Homo sapiens: one gene and its partner. The protein of the gene in region 2 purifies or fractionates together with the protein of the main gene of each other region. This does not show direct contact. Each region holds a gene or a part of one and is shown on either strand. Other genes may lie near its edges.

What was found. Proteins that work in one complex are often made in the same cells at the same time.
Region 1: the proteins of MFN1 (region 2) and TLR4 purify together in Homo sapiens (affinity purification with western blotting; one study listed by BioGRID). This does not show direct contact.

What each region holds. Positions count from the first base shown.
Region 1 is NC_000009.12:117,710,903-117,715,259, reverse strand, and holds part of TLR4 (toll-like receptor 4 isoform A precursor), read right to left. Parts: intron 2,872-4,357; coding exon 612-2,871; 3' UTR 1-611.
Region 2 is NC_000003.12:179,370,898-179,376,113, reverse strand, and holds part of MFN1 (mitofusin-1), read right to left. Parts: intron 895-5,216; coding exon 773-894; intron 1-772. UniProt on the Homo sapiens protein: Mitochondrial outer membrane GTPase that mediates mitochondrial clustering and fusion. Membrane clustering requires GTPase activity. It may involve a major rearrangement of the coiled coil domains.

The DNA of each region.
Region 1 (4,357 bases), on a different chromosome or scaffold from region 2:
GGTGATTAGTTAAAAAATAGAACATGCTCGAGAATGACCAGGATGGTTGTGAGCATGTGTTAATCAGGTTTCCTTAGGAATTAGCCACTAGACTTTAACCTCTGTAAGGAGACAGACTTAAAATGGAAGGGGCATCTTGCATCAGGAGCCCCTTGACGACTGCAGTCATCAAGTAGAATTTAAATTGTATTCAATCAAAAAGGAAAAAGTGAACACCCAGTTCAGTCAAAACTACCAAAATGGTTTTATGATGGCTATAACATAATACAATTTCCATTCAAAAGACTCAGGAAAAGAACAATGTCTCTTTCTGTTTTCTCTGTCTTTATTCAACTTGATGAGGTAAGAGTTGAAATGACTTTCTTTGTCATGGGTTCCTTGACTGAGTTGGTTGAAATGCCCACCTGGAAGACTCTGTATTTTAGTCTAGCATTTATTCCCTCTGCACTGGAAGCTCCTTGAGATTAGCAGCCCTGCATATCTAGTGCACCATGGAATTACTCACCCTTAGCATAAGGCCTGACATGTGGCAGCATTTAATACTTATTAACTGAACAAGTGTTGGACCCAGCTGGGCAAGAAATGCCTCAGGAGGTTTTTATTTTTCCTCTTCAGATAGATGTTGCTTCCTGCCAATTGCATCCTGTACCCACTGTTCCTTCTGGATTCCATGATTTACCATCCAGCAGGGCTTTTCTGAGTCGTCTCCAGAAGATGTGCCGCCCCAGGACACTGTCCTCCCACTCCAGGTAAGTGTTCCTGCTGAGAAGGCGGTACAGCTCCACCTGCTGCCTGAGCAGGGTCTTCTCCACCTTCTGCAGGACAATGAAGATGATACCAGCACGACTGCTCAGAAACTGCCAGGTCTGAGCAATCTCATATTCAAAGATACACCAGCGGCTCTGGATGAAGTGCTGGGACACCACAACAATCACCTTTCGGCTTTTATGGAAACCTTCATGGATGATGTTGGCAGCAATGGCCACACCGGGAATAAAGTCTCTGTAGTGAAGGCAGAGCTGAAATGGAGGCACCCCTTCTTCTAAATTCTTTACTAGCTCATTCCTTACCCAGTCCTCATCCTGGCTTGAGTAGATAACAAAGGCATCATAGATGTTTTCACCTCTACCATACTTTATGCAGCCAGCAAGAAGCATCAGGTGAAAATAGAACTTATAGACCAGAACTGCTACAACAGATACTACAAGCACACTGAGGACCGACACACCAATGATGGTCTTATTCATCTGACAGGTGATATTCAAACTCAGCACAGGCATGCCCTGCTTATCTGAAGGTGTTGCACATTCCATTCGTTCAACTTCCACCAAGAGCTGCCTCTGGTCCTTGATCCATTGCAGGAAACTCTGGTGTTCACAAGTACAAGCAAAGTCATTCTGAGTAAGATTTAAGAAAGCTAGACTACTTGGAAAATGCTGTAGTTCCTGTTTTTTGGAAGTCATTATGTGATTGAGACTGTAATCAAGAACCTGGAGGGAGTTCAGACACTTATAAGGAAACGTATCCAATGAAAAGAAGTTGTTGTGGCTCATATTTAGTACCTGAAGACTGGAGAGTGAGTTAAATGCTGTTGGAGACAACTGCTCCAGTTGACACTGAGAGAGGTCCAGGAAGGTCAAGTTTCTCAGCTCTGTGAAGATATCTGGAAGGAAGTTTTCCTGGAAAGAATTGCCAGCCATTTTCAAGACTTCGAGACTGGACAAGCCATTGAAGATGCCATTGAAAGCAACTCTGGTGTGAGTATGAGAAATGTCAAGGTAAATGAGGTTTCTGAGTGATAGGAATACTGAAAACTCACTCATTTGTTTCAAATTGGAATGCTGGAAATCCAGATGTTCTAGTTGTTCTAAGCCCAAGAAGTTTGAACTCATGGTAATAACACCATTGAAGCTCAGATCTAAATACTTTAGGCTGGTTGTCCCAAAATCACTTTGAGAACAGCAACCTTTGAAACTCAAGCCATTTCTACTGAGATCTAGAAACTCAAGGCTTGGTAGATCAACTTCTGAAAAAGCATTCCCACCTTTGTTGGAAGTGAAAGTAAGCCTTTTGAGAGATTTGAGTTTCAATGTGGGAAACTGTCCAAATTTACAGTTAACTAATTCTAAATGTTGCCATCCGAAATTATAAGAAAAGTCTTTTACCCTTTCAATAGTCACACTCACCAGGGAAAATGAAGAAACATTTGTCAAACAATTAAATAAGTCAATAATATCATCGAGGTAGTAGTCTAAGTATGCTAATCGGAATTCTTCAATGGTCAAATTGCACAGGCCCTCTAGAGCAGATTTGTCAAACTTTTCCAAGTTTCCTTCATTTCTAAATTCTCCCAGAACCAAACGATGGACTTCTAAACCAGCCAGACCTTGAATACAAGTTTTCATTACATTTAAACTATCAAAATTATTTCTTAAAGTCAGCTTATGAAGCCTAATTTCTTTAAATGCACCTGGTTGGATAAAGTTCATAGGGTTCAGGGACAGGTCTAAAGAGAGATTGAGTAGGGGCATTTGATGTAGAACCCGCAAGTCTGTGCAATAAATACTTTGAATCTTGTTGCTGGAAAGGTCCAAGTGCTCTAGATTGGTCAGATTAGAAAAATACTCAGGTAATTTGAAAGATTGGATAAGATTGTGAGCCACATTAAGTTCTTTCAAAGTTTTGAGATGTCCAATGGGGAAGTTCTCTAGAGATGCTAGATTTGTCTCCACAGCCACCAGCTTCTGTAAACTTGATAGTCCAGAAAAGGCTCCCAGGGCTAAACTCTGGATGGGGTTTCCTGTCAATATTAAGGTAGAGAGGTGGCTTAGGCTCTGATATGCCCCATCTTCAATTGTCTGGATTTCACACCTACAGGAATAAAAAGACATTGATTATCTAATATTTCTGCTGAATAAGAACCTAAAATAGAATATTAATCCTAGTCATCCAGCTCTTCATACAGATGTGATGGGTCATATGATTGTGCATAGGCAAAGACATCAAGCAGGACAGATGATGATGGAATAAGCAAATAAGAAGCCCCACAGACTGAGTATTATCATACTGGCTGCAATGATAGGCTCTTTTTTGTCATGTTAGGCATACATGATAAGCAGAGGAGAAAATCCATAAGAAGGAAATCAGTTAAAGATCAATAATTGACATATATAAAGATTGTGCAGTTGATAAAGCATGTAATAGCCTTGGATCAAGTTTAGCCATTTTCTGTCACACAAAATTGTGATTATACATCTGATTGGTACAGATAATATGGATAGTTGTTAGTTGGTAGCCAAGATAAATGACTGGTAAATATCAATTTCAGAGATACGAAAAATTACACATAAGTGTCACAGATACTCTTAATGTTTATGAAAAGTGCTTACATGACAGCTAGATATTTGAAAGTTCTTGTTATCAGAGGTAAATGCTTGTAACAGGTGATAGGAGCGAGTTTTGTGGAAAAAAGTGAAAATTATGTGCTATAAGAGTTCACATCCAGAGAACCGTTGTGGACCAAGAAAATCAAAGTAGGTTTCTCTGAGAACACTTAAGTTGAAAATTGAAAGATGAGTAGAAGTTAACAATAAAAGGAGGTGAAGTGAACAGCAAACACAAAAGCCCCAAGGTTGACAGAAAAAAAATGACACAAGGAGGAATCATGACAAATAGCTTCCATGGTTGGAGAACAGAGATGAAATTGGAGTGTACAATATGGAGTTGTGGAGAAAGAAGGTTCCCAATTAGGCAGAGGTTTACCAACCAGATAAAGGGTTTTGAATTTTATCCTAAAAGAAATGAAAGCCATGCTACACACAATGTTCAGAGACATGTCCTAGAGACAGGGCTTTGATGCAGCCAGCAAACAGCAAGCCAATGAAAAATTCCTTTCAGCATTGCAGGTGCTTGTCAGTTACAATGTACAAATAAGTTCTTTCTTAATCCAGCCTGAATTACATTTACAATATTCCCCACCCATTTTATTTAGCTTCTTCAGGAGTTTCCTAGACAATAAAAGCATTGTGGTCCAAGCTTTTGTTATTTATTGGTAACTAGATAAAGGATAGGCAGTATAGTAGAAAGAACGCTGGAAGAGTGGACAAAAGAGCTTGGGTTTGGTGTTTCTGCAGTCCTCTCCTACTGTGTGATCTTGAGTACCTCTTTTCCTCTCTAGGTTTTAGTTATCACATTTATAAATCAAACAGCTGAACTTGATTATTTTTGAAGTTCTTTCTTTCAATTATATGATTGTTATAGCCCATCATTCTATCTCTGCATTGCTCTATACATTAGGTGAGAAGGAAAGGGTCTTGCTGTGTCTCTATATCATTACATTGGTGATAATCACTTTAGA
Region 2 (5,216 bases):
AAAGAGCAAATACATTTAAAATTCCAATGTTATGTCATCTTGGACTTAAGCTTTGATGCGTTTATGTTTCCTTCAACTGGCTTAAGTCCACTGAAGGTCCTATCGAGGCTTAACATCATTACTTTTGTCACATCTAATAACATCCCGATCTGTGTTTCAAGCATACCAAGTTTGTGAAAATTATACTTTGTATCGATAATGCTGGTATTTTCATGTATTCATTGCCACCTTTACAAGGTAACAAATAGTATAAAATAATGCCGTACAGTATAACATAAAGGGTACTGCTTACCAAATCAACTTTCTGGTTGGCAGGTAGCATCGCCTTGTTTGTTCACCAGGCAATAAACAAACACAACTAGTATAAAATAGTGATTTCAAAATACCAATGTATGACCATATTAAAAAATGGGTCGTGGGTTGAATGCAGAAAGAGGATCACCTGTTTTGGACTTCTTCATAAAAATCTGCTTGAAGAAATGGTTCTTCCACTGCTTCAAAGATATTTTAAAGCCACAAAACATTTTAAAAATCACAATTCATACACAGGAATAGTGAGGTCCAGGGGATATAAATGATGTGTGCAAGGTTGCAGAATAAATATCGACACTTTCAAATACGCACTTAAAAATATAGAAGTAGGCATCAGTTAAACCCACAAGGTTGATTTCAGTGTAAAAAGTATTTATAGTACAACAATTTAAAACCTCATCTTAACAAAAGTCTGACAAAAAAACTAACATTTTTATGTTGCAACAAAATGAACTCATACCTTTTATCTTCAGCTGCCAGGTTTACTGAATCCATTATGTTTTTCACAGTAGCTAGTATCTGTTTAGCTCTGATAGTGTGCTGTTCGAACTTTGTTTTCACTGCTGACTGCGAGATACACTCCTGCGAGGGGCCCAAGCCGTAACACATTACTGTAATTCCATCGCAACATTTTCAGGAATTTAAACACAAAAACTTGCTGTTTGTAACTTTAACCCAAACAGAAATAAAGATAGAAAACAAATGAGTGATAAAAGCACAACTTAAAATTACAAAGGTGAAAAAAATACAAAGATTCAAAAGTAAAAAGGGCTTTAGCAGCAAGTTACCATCTTTGTGTATTTTTACACAGTAATGTGCAATGGTTTGACTCTAACATTAAAAAAAATAAACAGGGTACTATTTTCAATGTTAAAAAATTTCCTCATTAGAATTACTATTTTTATCTGGATCACCTTTAATCCAATTCTAGTCCTTCTATCTAGATTATTCTCATACTTGCAAAAGATATAACCTAGTAAAGTTCTTAATTAAGATGTGAATTAGAACAATTCCTTATTTAATAGCTGAATGATACAATGATTCCTGTAAGTTTGCTAAAAAGGACTTCATTGAGTTAAAATGTGAAGAATTTGAAAGCTAACATTTAACAATGTAACATCTAAAATTGTTTATAGAAAAAATATCTGCAGCTGTTTAGAAGATAATTGTAATTACTTTCATTAGAATATAGTGTGTACACAGAAACCTGAATCATGCCCTATCTCATTTATCTTCAAGCTAACAACCCATTTAAAATAGTTGTTATAAATCAGTGTTTTATAACCAGTGTTTATTTAAATAAAAAATACGTCACAATGCATCACATTTATCAATGGATACATTTCACATTTGTTTCAATTTTCAATATATAGAATACTTGTTATCTTATATATATATATTACATATATATGTTATATATGTTATATATATATTACATATATATGTTATATATGTTATATATATATTACATATATATGTTATATATGTTATATATATATTTTTGACAGTCTTGCACTGTCACCAAGGCTGGAGTGCAATGGCATGATCTCGACTCACTGCAACCTCCACCGCCTAGGTTCAAGTGATTCTCCTACTTTAGCCTCCCAAGTAGCTGTAATTACAGGCATGCACCACTATGCCTGGCTAATTTTTACATTTTTAGTAGAGTTAGGGTTTTGCAGTGTTGGCCAGGCCGGTCTTCAACTCCTGACCTCAAGTCATCTGCCTGTCTCAGTCTCACAAAGTGCTAGGATTACAAGAGTGAGCCACCACGCCCATCCTATAAATATATATTTACTATGATTTATCATTTAAAATTTATAAAATTGGGCCGGGCGTGGTGGCTCACTCCTGTAATCCCAGCACTTTGTGAGGCCGAGGCGGGCAGATCACGAGGTCAGGAGATTGAGACCATCCAGGCTAACATGGTGAAACCCCATCTCTACTAAAAATACAAAAAATTAGCTGGGTATGGTGGCACGCGCTTGTAGTCCCAGCTACTCGGGAGGCTGAGGCAGGAGAATGGCGAGAACCCGGAAGGTGGAGCTTGCAGTGAGCTGAGATAGCGCCACTGCACTCCAGCCTGGGCGACAGAGCGAGACTCTGTCTCAAAAAATAAATAAATAAAAATTTATAAAATTTTTATATTACAATTTGTCTTATTTCATTTTTACTTCACAGAAAGTCAAATTCTGCACTGAAATATAGCACAGTAAGTACTATAGATGTTTTATAAGAGACATGTTTATTTTCTATGATAAATTTTTTAAAAATTAGGGATATATTAATTCTCTGATACTCCAATGAATTCATCTTCTCGAACCTCTATATATTTAGCTAATACAAATTGTGGTAATTGCTTCCTGAAGTTCATTACTATCCTTCCTTTAATAAATGGCTTTTAGGCTTCAAAAGGCATTTACTTAATACTCTAGTGCTACATTTCTTATCCTGAAATCATCAGGATGCTACACGTGCATTCAATGTCCTATTTACGACCTATGCTTAGCCTTCATGTCTCTGAAATTATTTGAGCACTCAGAAAGACTATAATCTCTACTGCCATTTTAGCTCCCCTCTTCAGCATTTCGTTTGAGGTAGAGAAAACAAAACAGATTATTTAGCTATAGAGCACATGAGGGTAATTAATTTAGTCAATATTTAACTCTGAAGCCATTACTTTCTTGCATTGCCTAGCTTCATTTTTTCCCATGGTGAAGCTCATTTATGCATCACTTATTTTCACTGATTTTGAAAAAATTAATGTAGGAAGTTATAGCATTCCTGTTCTGTACACACCTAAAGATAAAACATACCCGGATGTTTTCTTCTTTAAAATCACCAATAATTACATAATAGTGAACATTTGTAAACTACTTATTTTTTAATAACTAAAATAATGCATTGACTTTATTTTAAATAAATGCCTCATAAATGTGTCAAATTAACTTCTGCAAAATTATAAAAACAAAAATATTTTTAAAAGGAAAAAGATTAAAATAAAGTCTATATTCCTCGATGAAGCAGATCTAGATATCAGCAATGAAGATCCAAATTTGTAGATAACAGCACAGTGTTAGAGCTAGACGAGACAGAAAAGATCTCCAAAAGTTATTAGGCAATATAAGTTACTGTCTGATTCAAAAATATATAATGATGAGTAAGTATAGAGAAGAAAATAATCAATTAAAAAGTAATCCCACATTGGTGTTCCCACTGATCTGTAGGATATTTAAGAGGTACCTTGAAAAAAGAACATTTTACTCCAAATAAGTATGGGAAGTGTTAATTTAAATAAAGTTCCCCTTCTAAGTTATTTCTCAGCATCCTTACTACACTAATATGCTAATTAATCTCTATGGGGAACATATATAATATGCAGCAGTTCCCAGATTTATTTTATCAGGAACTCTAATCATACATTAATAATATAAATTTATATATGTAATTAAAACATAAAACCAACAAACTTGTCAATTTCCCTTGAAAACAGACCCTACAAACACCTAACATGCTACTCATCACTGCCAACTTATTTTGATATACTTTCAATAGAAAGTGCAAGAAATAGACCTTTCATCTAGATATATCAAATATTAACATTCAGCCCCTTTTGTTTACTTCTCCCCTCCCTCCATACTCGCGCTCGATACTCTCTCTCCTGTGTGAGGGCATATATATATAATATTTATATATAACATTATATATAATATTTATATATGTATTATATAATATATAATATATAATAAATATATATAATATATATAATACATGTCTTGCAATGAATATATAAAATGTATGACCCCCATATATATAAAGAGAGGCATATATTTTTATATATACTTATGTATTATTTTCCTTCCTGAACATTTTGACAGGTCATTACTACATCACAAGCTTGTTACCTAACACATCAATACTTGTCTTCTAAGAAAGAAAACATTTGCACAATCACAAAACAATTGTATTCAGAATATTTACCATTGAGACAATACTATTATCTAACAAACAGTTCATGTTCAAATTTCACCTATCATCCAGGAATGTCCATTACAAAAAAATCCACTGACATTTTAAATAAGTTATTTTTATACGTCTATCTCCCATCATACAACCAAAACTAGTAAGAATTAATGGTGAAATAACTGTGCAAAAGATATTTGGATTTCTAACTTGCCTTTAGAACAATGCAGTCCAAATGCATTTTGAAACTTTCCAAATACAGTTTTAAAACAATAAGAAAATGTATTGACAGACTAACATTGATTTTCCTTTCTTCCTTTTTTTTGAAAGAAAAGAGAGTCTCACTCTGTCACACAGGTTGGAGCACAGTGGTACCTCCATAGCTCACCATCACCACAGCCTCAAACTTCTTGGCCTTCTACCTCAGCCTCTGGGGTAGCTGTGACTATAGTCATGAGCTATCATATCTGGATTTTTTTTTTTCCTGCTAGAGATGTGATTTAGTCTTTTCATGTTTTTGCCCAACCTGATCTCAATCTCCTAAGCTCAAGAGATCTTCCTGCTTTGGCATCCCAAAGTACTGGCATTACTGGCATGAGCCACCAATGCCCAGGCTAATATTGATTTTTTTTATTGCTTTTACTCCATTTAATTTTCAAGCCTTGCTTAAATTAGTATTCTAAATGTTTAAAATACTTAGATCCATTTGAATCAAATGAATCTAAAGAAGTTCACGGCACAGGTCAAATTGATAAAGGTGATGAACTTGATACAGTTTTTCTTTTCACAAAAAATCTTGCACGACTACAAAAAAAAGTAAGCAAATCCCCAAAACAGAGAAAATGTGTGTAAAAGCCACATGATGTGACCACAACACAAAGAAACCAAGAAATTAGTAACCAAAAATTGGATAAAATGAATCAAAACACTTGAATTTTAAA